Homo sapiens: one gene and its partner. The protein of the gene in region 2 interacts with the protein of the main gene of each other region in a biochemical or structural test. Each region holds a gene or a part of one and is shown on either strand. Other genes may lie near its edges.

Region 1 (7,859 bases), on a different chromosome or scaffold from region 2:
AAGAGAACTTGGATTAAGACAATATTATATTAGATTAGATACCTACCATTGCTCACCATCCGCCTGGCCACTTCCCACAAAACAAGTCCAAAGGCCCAAATATCGACCCTTTTATAAGAATCGAAACAATCCACCTGGATGGTTTCATCTAGAACTTCGGGGGCCATGTAGCGCTTGGTGCCCACACGGGGATTGTTCCCCACATCAAGCTGATTGGTGCTCTGGGAATGCATGACTGCCAGGCCTGAAAGGAAGAAGATAACAATGTAATCAACCCACTTCCTTTCTCATAAGAGGCTGCTGAAGGATTTTAAACCAACCCCAATCAAAAGTGCCCTCTTGTGGATCCAGGGTCACTGTTGCAATACACTCAGAATGATCCCTAGAATGCCCTTTGTGATTATTTCCGGGGTGAGAGCAGAAAAGGGACTAAATGTCAGAAACATTCTAAGGCTATCAGGTTAATATATGAACCTCAAAGAGACAAAAAGTTTTGGGTAAATTGTAGACCAATGCACTAAACCAATGTGGCCTGTGTTTGAGGTCCACAGGAAAACAGGCTCACATGTTAAATGTGAGCCTCTAAGTGGCTTAACAAGAAGCAAATTAAGCTCTCAAGCTCCACCACTGCTCTCACTAGTCTCCAAACACAAATTTCCAACAGTGTGAGATAGAGCATTTAAAGTAATTTATCACTACATAAAGGGCAGATTGCTATAAGCACTGCTTTATTCCTAAAGGAAGAGCTGCTTATCTGAGCAGTAATGCTGACCAAACCCACAGGCCTTTTCTCTAGAATCATGGAAACAGACAGCATTTAACTGGACCTCAATTGAAAGCACAACTCTCAGGTTAAATGGCTTTCAAATGCTTTCTTAAACCATGACTCATTCCAGAATTCCTCAGTCAATTAGGGAGACAGGCTTTCTTCACTGGCCAGTGGGGAGACACATACATGCATGCTTTATTTGTGGATGATTTTATGTTACTGATGCATATGCAGACTGACTGAAAATGATTCCTATAACATTTGTTGTAATGAAAAGTGCCAAATTGGAGCAAGCAGTCCCTGTAAACCACTGCAATGCAAATATCCCTTGTTGATCTCTCAAGCCATCTACAGAGAATGCTTCACCTTCCACTCCACGGCTTTGAATGTGGGGGATGACAATTTCATATAACATCAGGGAGCTAGCACACCTTATCTCATCCTTAATAATTAGCAAAGATACTGGCAACTGCATTACACTAAAACAGACAGGTTCCTCTTTCACCTATTTTTATAATCAACCCCAAGATTCTATGGACACTGTGAACATTTCCCAAATCCTATGCAATAGTCCCCCCACTTATCCTTCAGTTACCCGCAGTCAACTACAGTCCAAAAATAGGTAAGTACAGTACAATTAAGTATTTTGAGAGAGATACCATATTCACATAAATTTTATTATAGCATACTGCTATCATTGTTCCATTTTAGTGTTACTAATGTTCATCTTTTACTGTAGCTAATCTATAAATTAAACTATAATAGGTATGTAATAGGAAAAAACATAGTATATATAGAATCTGGTACTATCCTGAGTTTCAGGAATCCACTGGGAGTATTGGAAGGTATTTCTCAGGGAAAAGAGGGGACTACTGTATGCCCCTCCACCATTTGCAGAACCAAACAGTCAAAATATCAGAATATTTAAAAGGTGCAGGTTAAATAGAACATGGAGATATTCTGAAGATGGGAGAAGCTTCAAAGAACTTGTGGACATATTTTAAAGCCACCACTGCTAGGATCTCCAGGTGAGGCATAATTCCCCATCCCTTGAGTGTATGCTGGACTATTGAATAGACTATGGCATAAGTGACAGTGGGTATCTTCACAGTTAGGATATAACAGATGTTATAAAATTATAAAAGGCTTCCTGTTTGTCCCTCTCAGCTCACCATGCACCATGTTATAAAGACACTCAAGCAACCCTGTGGAGAGGTCCCCCTGCAAGGAGCTGAGACCTGCCGCCAATCATGGCTTTAAGTGTGTCCTCACAGAGTTGGAAACTCCAGCTCTGGTTGAGCGTTCAGATGATTGCAACCTCCACGAGACCCTGAGCCAGAACCACACCGCTAAGTCATTCCAAGATTCCTGACTCTCAAGAGACTGTGTGAGATAACAAATCTGTGTTGTTTTAAGATGCTAAATTTTACAGGTGATTTGTTCTTAGTAATAAGTAATTTTTACACTAAAGATGACAAAACAACCGGATGCAATTTGTAAACTTTGGCTGAGTTCCTCTTTGAAAAAACTGAAAACATCTGAAAATGAATATAAAATGATACTAGAGAATTATCAATAATCTGTAGATATGAAAAACTGATTATGAAGAAGATGCATTTTTAAGTATTTTCAAGGGATGAATTTTGAAGTATTGAGGGGTAAAGTGTTGTGATGCCTGTAACACTTTATTTTCAAATGGATTGGCAAAAATATACACATGGTCACAGATTGATAAAGCAAACATCACAAAGTTTTAACAATTATTGAATCTAGGTGTTCGGGATTTAAGTGATCATTATAACATTTGAATTTTTTAATAATAAAAAGAAAAACAGACGAGGCACAGTGGCTCACATCTGTAATCTCAACATTTTGGGAGGCCGAGATGGGATTGTCACTTGAGCTCAGGTGTTCAAGATCAGCCTGAGCAACATAGTGAGACCTCATTTCTACTAAGAACAAAAAAAAGTTAGCCAGGTGTGGTGGTACACACCTGTAGTCCCAGCTGTTTTGGAACGCTGAGGCAGGAAGATTGCTTAAGCCCAGTAGATCGAGGCTGCAGTGACCTATGATCAGCCTGGGCAACAGAATAAGATCCTCTCTCAATCAATTAATCAATATAATACTGATCTTTTTGCAGGATTAATCATAGAACACTATTTCTAATACATGATCCTTAATTGCTAGGTATATACTGGTAAGTTATATACAAATTATGGTCTTATAAGAGTTGTTTCCTGCACTGCATTGTTTTACCATATCCTGAATAATAACGCCTTAACAGATTTTTATACAAACCCATATATCTAATTGGAAGGTTACAAGCCAAAAGAAATGTAGTTGAAGAATTAATTAGCTGGACTTACTGCAAAGTTCCCCTCAACTCCTTCCCTACCAAGTCCCATAAACCAAAACCAAGAGCCACCTCAATTTGTCCACCCTCCCCAGACCACTGGATTATAACAGAAGCTACAACTTGAATCCTTATTGTTTACCAGACATTTATAATACTTCTGGGCCTTACCAGAATCCGGTGAGGTGGGCTTATTTTTTAGTTACATGAGTAATATATGATCACACTATATATATATTTTTTTTTAGACGAAGTCTCGCTCTGTCGCCCAGGCTGGAGTGCAATAGCGCGACCTCGGCTCACTGCAACCTCCGCCTCCTGGGTTCAAGCAATTCTGCTGCCTCAGCCTCCCCAGTAGCTGAGATTCCAGACGCACGCTACCACGCCCGGCTATTATTATTATTTTTCTTTTTTTTTTTTTTTTGTATTTTTAGTAGAGATGGGGTTTCATCACGTTCGCCAGGCTCATCTTGAACTCCTGACCTCAAGTGATCCTTCCGCCTCGGCCTCCCAAAGTGCTGGGATTACAAGCGTGAGCCACCGCGCCCGGCCACGATCACACTGTTATGCAAGTTTCTAACAACGCAGAAGTACAGGGCACAGCGTCAAGCCCTGGAGTTCCTCTTGGCTAACTCCCAACCCCATCCGCCTTCGCCCTCACTGTCCCTGTCTCACTGAGTGAAAGCAGTGTCAGCACTTGGGCCAGGTAAATAGATAAATAGACTTGCACAAAAATACAGGGTAATTGAGAAAGCCAGAATTTAAACCCAAATCGCCCTGGCTCTAAGAGCCATGGAATAAGCCATAAAAGTCCTCTACACCACAACTAAAAATGCCTGCAAAAAACTTTAGGGCCATGCTCTTTCAATGCTTATCCTAAAATCTTTCGTCTCCTACTTGGGAAACATTGTAATTTCTCAATGTAAAAGCAAAGACTTTAAAGGGATTCAAAGGAAATAAATTTTCCTAACATGTCAAATCCCTTATGTTTAAAAACAAACAAAAATAAACTTTGTTATTTACATAACTAAAGCTATTTTTGTCTAAACCTTTATCAGGCTAACAATAATTGCAATAATATAAATATCATATAAACCATGTTTAATCAAGTAGAGGGCCCTGAATTCTCATTAGCACAATTATTTAGCCAATATTCTAGGAATCCAGGAAGAACATGGTTTTATATAAAATGCCACTATAAATGAAAATACTCTTATTTATAATGCAACTAAAGCTACACTGAGTACTACTCTAACACCATAAGAATGAGCTATCCTAACAGGGAAAAGAGTGAATCAGTTCGGGGATTATTTTCCTATTTCTTAACTTGATTCTTTTGCCTTGGTTACAGAATGATTTTAGAGACCACTTTTAAGATAAACTAATTCTATAGAGTATTTATTGTGCACCTACTTTATGTGAAGGTTAGTGAAACCAAAATGCAACAGTACTGGTTACTTCTGAGGTGGGGTGTGGCAGGGACTGACTGAATGAGCCTGAGGTAACTGTCAAGAGTAATGGGAAACTCTGTATCTCGACAGGGATTTGGGTTTTACAACATTTGTCAAAACTCTTAAGATTTGTATATCTCACAGTATATAAATTTTACCTGAAAAAAAGAAAAAGCAAATAATGCATTCTTGTCAATGATATACTAGTGTACATGCTGAAATCATCAGAAGAAAGAATTCCTTTGTCTGCAATTTACTTTCAACTCTATCAAAGGTTGATATGGACTGATGGATGGGGAGATGAATAGATGAATAAATACATAATAATGCTTAAGGATAGTAAAATGTTAATGTGAGAATCTATGTGGTGGGTATAAAGGTGTTCATTGTAAATGTTCAACTTTTCTGCATGTTTGAAATTTTGCATAACATGTTGTGGGGGAGAGATGCAACTCACCTAACCATTGAAACAAAAATAAAACTGGTGAGGAAAAAAATATTTTTAGAAATTTACCCAAATCTGCTATGCAACACTGTCCATTCTTCTTAACCAGAATATTTTTGCTCTTTAAATCTCGATGGGCAATGGCTGGTTTCCCTTGGGTCCCAAATATCTCTATGTGCAAATGTGCAAGACCACTAGCTATGGACAGCACTATTCGAAGGCAGCTAACTGTATCCAGAGTAGTAAGCTGAAGATAGTCGTACAACGATCCCATTTCATGATAATGTGTAATTAACCACAGCTGGGTACTGGAGTGTCTTGATGTCATGTCTGAAGCAATGAAACCTGGAGAGAGCAAGAAAAAAATTAATATACATGAGGATTCCACATTATAACTTAAAGTATTTAGAAATAGCGACCTACACAGTAAATGTCATCTGTAACAAAAAGTAATTAAACTGACCAATTGCCCTAAGAGGAGGTTTACAGAAGCATCAACAGAGAAAAATAATAGCATTTATTCCTTAAAAGGGCACTGCTAATAGGAAAATTTCATATTCATTTCATTATAAGTAATACTTTAAAAGATATTTTACATTCCTTAAGTTTCAGATAGCAATAATATCTTTGTGCTCACCCATAATGATAGTGCCAAGCCCTTCAGCATGTTGATATTTTAGGAACAGACCATTCATCAACCATCCTAAAAGAACATCAAATCTAAAACCTGAGTACTGTATTCTAGTCCTGACTCTGCCTGTGATTTACTTGTCTAATACTGGGCAACTCAGTTAGGCTCCTTAGCCTATATCTGCTCAGATGTAAAATAAAGGGGGCAAGTTTACATTAAATGATTGACTGATTCACGAAATAAAAAAAGAAACCAACCAAATATATGAGTATTTATGATGCTATCTGTCAGTCACACACAGAAAAACCAAGATGATAGTGTTTGCTGGCTAAAGAAGACAGATGTAAAAACGAAAACACTACAATAAAATACGAAAAGTACTATAATATATATCTTCAAAGGGCAACATGAGCCCAGAGCAGGAAATTATAGTAATTCAGACTAGGTGTTACAATAGGCTTCCATTAGGAAGTGGCAACTCAACTGGTCTTGAAGTAAAGTGAGTGACTGACAAATGTGGATGAAGAGGTTGGAGAAGATTTTTCTTTTTCTTTTTCTTTTTTTTTGAGACGAAGTTTCCCTCTTGTTGCCCAGGCTGGAGTGCAATGGCGCGATCTCGGTTCACTGCAACCACCGCCTCCTGGGTTCAAGTGATTCTCCTGCCTCAGCCTCCCGAGTAGCTGGGATTACAGGGGCCCACCATCACGCCGGGCTAATTTTTTATATTTTAAGTAGAGATGAGGTTTCCCCACGTTGGCCACGCTGGTCTCAAACTCCTGACCTTCAGGTGATCCACCTGCCTTGGCCTCCCAAAGTGCTGGGATTACAAGCGTGAGACATCGCGATCAGCCCGGAAGAGATTTTTCTAGACATCTGGAGGGAACTTTTGAGCATGCAGAAGACTGTCTGGAAGTTAGGGGCACTTCCTATCTTATGAAATAAATTGTGACGTGTGCTTGCCTTTTCTGCTACAGAGGTGCCTTTCTAGGATTATTCTCACATATATGAACCACGCTGGTAGACAGTGAAGTTTGGGACTTAAAAAGAGGTGAGAAAAAAAATTTTTTAAGACGGATATGGCTTGAGGAAGAATTAAATGACTTATGAAAATGTAAGAGAAAATACATTAAAATGCTTTATACTTGCATAGTACTTTATATAAAATTTATGTCACTTTCACATATATTTTCTCATGAGATTTTTCCCAACAAGCTGGTAAGAAAGACATCATTATGCTCATTTTACAGATAATAAAGTTGGTGCTGGGAGATGCCAAGGATCACACAGCTATTTAAGTTGCTATCAACTCTGAATTTAGTGCTAGCTGTCCTGATACCTTGCATAGGAAGGCTCTGTGAGCCAAGAAAGGTCCCCTATTTGATCATCATCATCATCGGCAACCACAACAGAGGCAGCTAATAATTATTGAGTACTACATGCCTGGAACTTTATATGCAATCCTCCAAAAACCACATGAAGTAAGTAGATCGCATAATTGATATTAGGTTCCTGTAGGTCTGATTCTAGAACCCAGACTCTTACTGACTATGCCATACTGTCCCCAAACAAACTGATTTCTACTCAGAGAAAAAATAATTTCACATTTTCACCTATGGGACATATGCAAAGCAAACTGAATAATATTTTAGCACCTTCACCCTCTACTTCTTTCTCTCTCTTCCTCTAAGCCTATTCCCATGGCCAGCCCTGAGTCTCCCACTCCTTCCCTGCTCCCCAGTCTGCTTTTCCCCTCGATGCTGCTTCTCTTGGAGCCCTTAGCTGGCCACAATATGCATCAAAATGTGTTCTTGGACATTAGTTATTCTTAATAAAGAAAATGTTTCTGCTTTAACAGTTTGAACCAAATAATACTAATCTTTAATGATTTTCTTAAAAAATACCCCAAACTCTAACAGCACCACTCAAAAGAAATTAAATTACTGTTATATATCTGTGTAGCCTCTACTGATTTCCTCTCCCAAGAAAAAGGAGCTTCTGATTAAATAAATAAATAATAAACGAATACATTTTTATTATCTCACCTTCACTAAGCCCCTTAGGTCTTAGGGAAGAAGTTTATCTGTCCCATTAATTATGCTCTAGACCATCAGGAAAAAAATTACTTTTAAATAAGCAGGGTTTTCTTTTTAACTGTTTATCTCTTAAGCGTGAATTATATAACTACCTTTGCTTCATGATTCTAGAGTACT
Region 2 (6,989 bases):
TAGCCGTGATGAAAGCAGCGTTACTTCTGACCGTGCCTGAGTAAGAGAATGCTGATGCCATAACTTTATGTGTCGATACTTGTCAAATCAGTTACTGTTCAGGGGATCCTTCTGTTTCTCACGGGGTGAAACATGTCTTTAGTTCCTCATGTTAACACGAAGCCAGAGCCCACATGAACTGTTGGATGTCTTCCTTAGAAAGGGTAGGCATGGAAAATTCCACGAGGCTCATTCTCAGTATCTCATTAACTCATTGAAAGATTCCAGTTGTATTTGTCACCTGGGGTGACAAGACCAGACAGGCTTTCCCAGGCCTGGGTATCCAGGGAGGCTCTGCAGCCCTGCTGAAGGGCCCTAACTAGAGTTCTAGAGTTTCTGATTCTGTTTCTCAGTAGTCCTTTTAGAGGCTTGCTATACTTGGTCTGCTTCAAGGAGGTCGACCTTCTAATGTATGAAGAATGGGATGCATTTGATCTCAAGACCAAAGACAGATGTCAGTGGGCTGCTCTGGCCCTGGTGTGCACGGCTGTGGCAGCTGTTGATGCCAGTGTCCTCTAACTCATGCTGTCCTTGTGATTAAACACCTCTATCTCCCTTGGGAATAAGCACATACAGGCTTAAGCTCTAAGATAGATAGGTGTTTGTCCTTTTACCATCGAGCTACTTCCCATAATAACCACTTTGCATCCAACACTCTTCACCCACCTCCCATACGCAAGGGGATGTGGATACTTGGCCCAAAGTAACTGGTGGTAGGAATCTTAGAAACAAGACCACTTATACTGTCTGTCTGAGGCAGAAGATAACAGCAGCATCTCGACCAGCCTCTGCCTTAAAGGAAATCTTTATTAATCACGTATGGTTCACAGATAATTCTTTTTTTAAAAAAACCCAACCTCCTAGAGAAGCACAACTGTCAAGAGTCTTGTACACACAACTTCAGCTTTGCATCACGAGTCTTGTATTCCAAGAAAATCAAAGTGGTACAATTTGTTTGTTTACACTATGATACTTTCTAAATAAACTCTTTTTTTTTAAAAGTCTGGTCTTTCCTTCAATGTTACAGCAAAACAGATATAAAATAGACAATAAATTATAGTTTATATTTACAAAAAAAGCTGTAAGTGCAAACAGTTGTAGATTATAAATGTATTATTTAATCAGTTTAGTATGAAATTGCCTTCCCAGTACATGATTGTGAAAAAGACATTTAGAAAATATTCTAAAATTTAATCTGAGCCTCACTTTCTACAAGGGAAATCATGATTTCCGTTCATAAACAGCATGCTCATCCCCCTAACACCATTCTTATAAGCTGGGCACCCTCATTTTATTTTCTTCGTTGGTTCTAACCCTGTGGCGTGGTATGCTGTATAGTAAAAAGGCAGAGAACCACTTTACTGAAAAGGTACTAGAGCCGGCAGTCCAGAAGTTAATGTGCTGGTCAAAGAACCGTTCTGGTAAAGAAGAGGTGAGCATTGCCTTCACGTGTTACACGGTTACACACCCCTTGTAGCCTCACCTCAGTGTAATCAGTCTACTTTTGGTACTAGCAAAGAGTACAGCAAATGGAGGATTGAGGTGTAGAAATGGTATGTTTTGGCTGAAATAAGTGTATTTTCACACCAACAAAACTCCAGCACGAACATACAACAGCAATGACTGAGACAAGGGCGCCCCGTGGAGCCCTGGCTGTGGCCTGGGCTGTGCGTCCTGTGGACTTCTGGGAATGAACTGAACAGAGGCGTTCCCCCCACTTCCCCGATTTCTGTTCTCTGTAAAATCTACCTTTGATAGACAGTACTGAACCAGCTGATCCTTTAGCCAAGAATACATTTAACTCCTTTGAGATTATTTTCCCTATTTACTAACAAACACCCCAAATAGCTTGATCTACAGCTAAAACTAATTTTGGTGGGTTTTTGGGGGAGGAGGGTAGGAAGAGCTTCACGGTTATGTTTCTGCAGTTACCAGACCTTATGCTACAGACATCCAAACTCAGCTTGCTACAGACCAACAACTACTCACGTCATTTACCAAGTGAGCAAATTATTAATGAGGTCCTTTAAAATCTTCCTGGGTAATAAGGCACTGGCATGAGATAGTTTCAAAGTCTCATCGTCCCACCTCCAACTGTGCTTCCGTGTTTTTTTAAGGCAGATGTAATCTAGGAATCCAAGGCAGAATGTGTGTCCCCAGCATCTGGTTTCGAGTTAGTGGCATCCACAAGCTCTTACAACCATATTCCTGTATTTTTTCAGAATGACATTGGAGTTGTCATCAAAGTAAAGAACCGAGATGGCATTTAGCTTAGTTGGCGCACAGCACGGTTTGGGGACATACTCGGGGTTCATAAGGTGAACCTGTTCCAAAACAGAAGGGGAGAAGGTACCTTAGAAATGACACCTGGTCTTGGCTTACTCCCACTTACAAAACAAAGTCTCCGAGAGCTCACCAAGGTCTGCACAATCGCGTGGTTGGTTGCATTCATGTGTGCGTTGAGTGGGAAGGAGCATTCTCCATCACAGTAATTGGCAGCATAGCCCTTGGGTGCAATGATCCAGTCCTTAATTTCATGCAAAGGAAGCAACAAAAGATGAGCATGCACTTCTCACACTATTTGTGCTTTTCAGGAATGCTGTGAAAAGGTATTTTTCACATTGCACAGGCAAGGATACAGACGCAGGAAGGCTTAGGAATTTGTCCAAGTTCACATTCAAGTGGCAATGCTGGGAAGTGAACCTGGTCCATCTGACCCCAGAACCCTCGCTCCTTGCAGAGGCCCACAGGGCCTCAGCTGCTACCTGGAAGCACGTAGGTTGCCAGCAATATGTGCTTGGACCCAAGCAAGCCTCTCCAGGAGCCCACGGTGCTCCTGCGGAAGTAGTGCCACCTGCATATGGAAGCTACCTTTTATCGCTCACCACCTGTGATTAAAGTTGCTGCCTTTCTTACAAACTAGTGATGGTTCTCAGGTACGAGGCAAACGTGTGCTCTTCTGCATCGTTTGGTGAGCTGGTTTGCAGCCATTGGAGATGTTAACCATTAGGTAATTTTTTTCCAACCCTGTCTCAATTAAAATTTGTTTAAATGCCCAAATAAATGTATGTCCTATGGGCTTTGAAAGGATGAGGTGAGAATATTGGGAAATGTGGCTATTGATTTTTGAGGGATCACAGAGCTCAGGCACCCTAGGAAGGTGTTGGAGCGCCTGGTGCCCCACAGACTAAGCTTCCTCTGCCTTACTCCAGGAGCCTGAGCATTTGGGAGGGCTCCTCAGGACTTCCACAGAAGGAAGCAGCTCAGCCTTCAATCAAGCTCTGGGTGTTTGGTAATGGCTGCCACCATTCAGATGAGAGTAAACTGCTGAGAAAGGACCTTTATCCCCCGTGTCCAGAGAACTCACCTGCCATCCCAGGTCTTGGAAACTCACATACAGCTCATGCTTCCTGCAGGCTGTTTTCAATTCACTGCTGTTGTAATCTGTTGGAGGAGATCAAAAGATGCACCCATCAAAAGATGCACCCATCAACTCATTAATTCCTTCATAGAGAGTTTACCACATGCCAGGCTCTGTGCTAGGCTCAGGATAGCCTCCTAGATACAAGTATGGTCACCCAACAGCTACATCAGGTTCCTGACTGTTGGCTTGAATGTCTTACGGAATCCGTTTTGTCTACCCTGGGGTCAGTACTGGGAGCAGGGTGACTTGAATGGACACCCTTAAGCAACAGAGGTGTGTTGTGAGCCCTGCTGCATGCAAGGCCTATGGAGGCGTGGGCCGACTTGCCCAGTACACCCCAGAGGCGCCAGACCGGGAAGGCATCACATTCACATGATCAGACAACGCTACTAGGCAGGATTTGCTGCAGTCCAAACAGGGAGCATTTTGAAACTGCACAGGGGCTTTCAAGACAGCTGCCGGGCCAGAAGAGTATCCTGAAGGAAGAGTAATGGTGGAGTGGGGCCAAACCAGGAGGCCCAGGAACGGGGGAGAGGGAGACACCACGCAGGGGCAATGCTCTCTCTGGCTGTACTCCCACCTCACTGCCAGGGTTGAGCTCTTGTGTGCTGATGCAATAACACTAAGCCAGGGGTTCCTCAGGAGACTCTGCTGAAGTGCATGTACCCACCCTGTGCAGCACAGGGGCCACTAGCCTGGCTTAACTGAATCACCAGCAAGAGCACTGGGGGTGCCCCAATTCACTGAGGCCCACTGGAGCGACTCTTACGTGACATGCCTTCTGCCTGGCACCACGGCCAATAGACGGTAAGTCAGACATGGCTTTCCTCCCTCCAAGAACTCAGTGAATGAAGGGGTGGTGTAAAACAGACACACAAATAACTCCAATACAAACCAGAACATGGATGCTACGGGCAAAGGCCATAGGCAAATATCACACAGGCAAGGGCCATAGGCAAATGTCCCTTCAGAGAAGGGACAGTTCAGAGTGGGAGTGAGAGGAAGAGAGAGGAGTTCTGCTGGAATGGATTTAAGGATGTGTCAAGCAGGGTCGGATGAGATAAAGCTGGAGAAATGAATGGCCTAGGCTGCCAACCACAATGCTTCGGACTTCCCACCAGAGGCACAAAGTGAGCCTTTGCAGGGTTCTGAGCTGCAGAGCAGCATTTCCCGCTGTGATTCGAAAGGATTAATCCATCTGGAGTTGTGTTGGAGAGTTCGAGAAACGACGGAGAGAGAAAAGGCAAGGAGAAGGCTTTAGAGAAAGGTCATCTAATGTGGGATGTCAGTGGGTGTAAGAGCCTAGGTCATTTGCAGGCTATCCCTTCCCTTTTCAACTACATAAGCCAGTAAGTCACCTAATTGTTGAAAGCCTGTTTGAACTTGATTTTCTAACTTCTAACTCCCAGTCTTCCTGGCTCTGAAGCAGGAGAGAGCGTGCAGATTTCATTAATTTTTTTTTTTTTCTTTTGAGACAGAGTCTTGCTCTGTTACCCAGACTGAAGTGCAATGGCACGAGCTCGGCTCACTGCAACCTCTGCCTCCTGGGTTCAAGCGATTCTCCTGCCTCAGTCTCCCGAGTAGCTGGGACTACAGGCGCGAGCCACCATGCCCAGCTAATTTTTTGTATTTTTAGTAGAGATGGGGTTTCAACACATTGGCCAGGCTGGTCTCGAACTACTGACCTTAAGTGATCTGCCCATCTCAGCCTCCCAGAGTGCTGAGATTACAGGTGTGAGCCACCATGCCCCACCAGATTTCATGATTTTTTAAGGAAAAGAGACAGTGACTCAGGCCAGTGGCCTATACTGGGAGAAGAGATGGGGCAACTTTTTTAGGTGGTTTATAATTCTAAATTTATTTATCCTCTCCACCTGCCTATGTTACCCAACAGAACCACCCTGCCTTTAACTTTAAGGACCCCAGAGAAGCCCTGGAGGGAAATTTTCACAATGCAGGACAAGGACTCTCTCAGTAAAAACAATCAACCAACTATCACCATAAGACAGAAACTTCCTACTGAAAAGAACCCCTGAACAAAAATGAATCAGCCACACAAAGTCTCTCAAGAGGATGGCTGGAATGCAAGGGAAGACCCAGAGGACCCCAGAGACTGTGGATAAGAGTCATCTGAACTAAGCTCTAAAGGAAGAATACCAAAACAAAACAAAACAATAACAAAACTAAAAACAAAAACTAGAGGAAAAAAAAGGAAGAATACCTAAAATAATGGAAGGAAGAAAAGAAGGACTAGAAACCTTAAAACAAAATTATGGGGAAAAAACATGAAAAAAGAACAGGTAGATGTAAAAAGAGTCAAATAGAACTTTATAAAAACCATAACCATTGAAAATAACAATGAAATCAGATTAGATATAACTAAAGATCAGATTAAACAGGTTAAACATTAGTTGTCTAATTAACAGATTAAACAGATTACTTAACAGATTAGTTATACATTAAACAGATAATCATCAAATTACACATAACTGAAGACAGAATTAAAGAATTCAACAGTATATTTGAAATCTCTTCAAATATAGCACAGAATCAAATGGCCAAAATACATGACTGTCTCTTTGTAAAGAGACATGGAAGAGAGAATGAAAAGTCCAACAAATTTCTAATAGGAATTTCGGAAGGCAGTAATAGGGAGTAGTAGTATTTGAAGACATAATGACTGGGAATTTTCTACAACTAAAGAAAGGCAAACATCTTTAAGTTGAAAAGGCCCAAAGAGTTCCAAGAGGATCAGATAAATTCTTATCTAGCCACATGTAGTGAAATTATATCAAACACATAAATTCTTAAAAGTAATCCAGAGATAAAAAGAAAATTACTAAGAAACACAAAATGGATAGCAAACTTAACAAAAATACACATTAAAAAATTAAATAATATGAAAATGATGCCATCAAACCTAGAATGCCATACCCAGCTGTAGTGGATATTTACTGCTTTTGCTACCCAGCTTTTGGCAACACTTCGCATGTGGGGGAATGCCTAGATAGGTGGGACTCAGAGCCCCATTTCCCACGACAGATAGCTCCCCTCTTTGTCCCCTAGCATCTGAAGTACGGACTCATGACTTCATCAAAGCCAATCAAATGTCTCCACCCTGCAGTGTATAACCTGAGGGAGTGACTCAAAGGTGACATCAAGAATGGGTAGTACGGCAGCCAGTGTCTAGGGTGATGACCACATTGGAGGGATCCAAAGCACATTGTTCCATGACTAGATCTGAGCCTTGATTTCCTGAATTAAGTCTCCAGCCTTTTTGTTGATTGGGTAAGTTCCCTGGTACGCTTTTCTCTCTCATTACAGTCTGCTTCTACTGCATGCAATCTAGAGCACTGTGATAGTTAATTTTGTGTCAACTTGATTGGACTATGGAATGCCCAAGTAGCTGATAAAACTTTTTTTTCTGCAATGGGGTTTTGCTCTGTCACGCAAGCTGGAGCACAGTGGCACAATCATGGCTCACTGCAGACTTGACCTCCTGGGCTCAAGCAATCCTCCCACTCAG

Evidence for each region. The genes of interacting proteins can lie anywhere in the genome.
Region 1: the proteins of BMP6 (region 2) and ACVR1 form a complex in vitro, tested with the Homo sapiens proteins (one study listed by BioGRID).

Annotation. Positions count from the first base shown.
Region 1 is NC_000002.12:157,760,834-157,768,692, forward strand, and holds part of ACVR1 (activin receptor type-1 precursor), read right to left. Parts: intron 5,364-7,859; coding exon 5,088-5,363; intron 245-5,087; coding exon 47-244; intron 1-46. UniProt on the Homo sapiens protein: Bone morphogenetic protein (BMP) type I receptor that is involved in a wide variety of biological processes, including bone, heart, cartilage, nervous, and reproductive system development and regulation.
Region 2 is NC_000006.12:7,875,568-7,882,556, reverse strand, and holds the end of BMP6 (bone morphogenetic protein 6 preproprotein), read right to left. Parts: intron 3,484-6,989; coding exon 3,407-3,483; intron 2,567-3,406; coding exon 2,456-2,566; intron 2,364-2,455; coding exon 2,214-2,363; 3' UTR 829-2,213; downstream 1-828. UniProt on the Homo sapiens protein: Growth factor of the TGF-beta superfamily that plays essential roles in many developmental processes including cartilage and bone formation.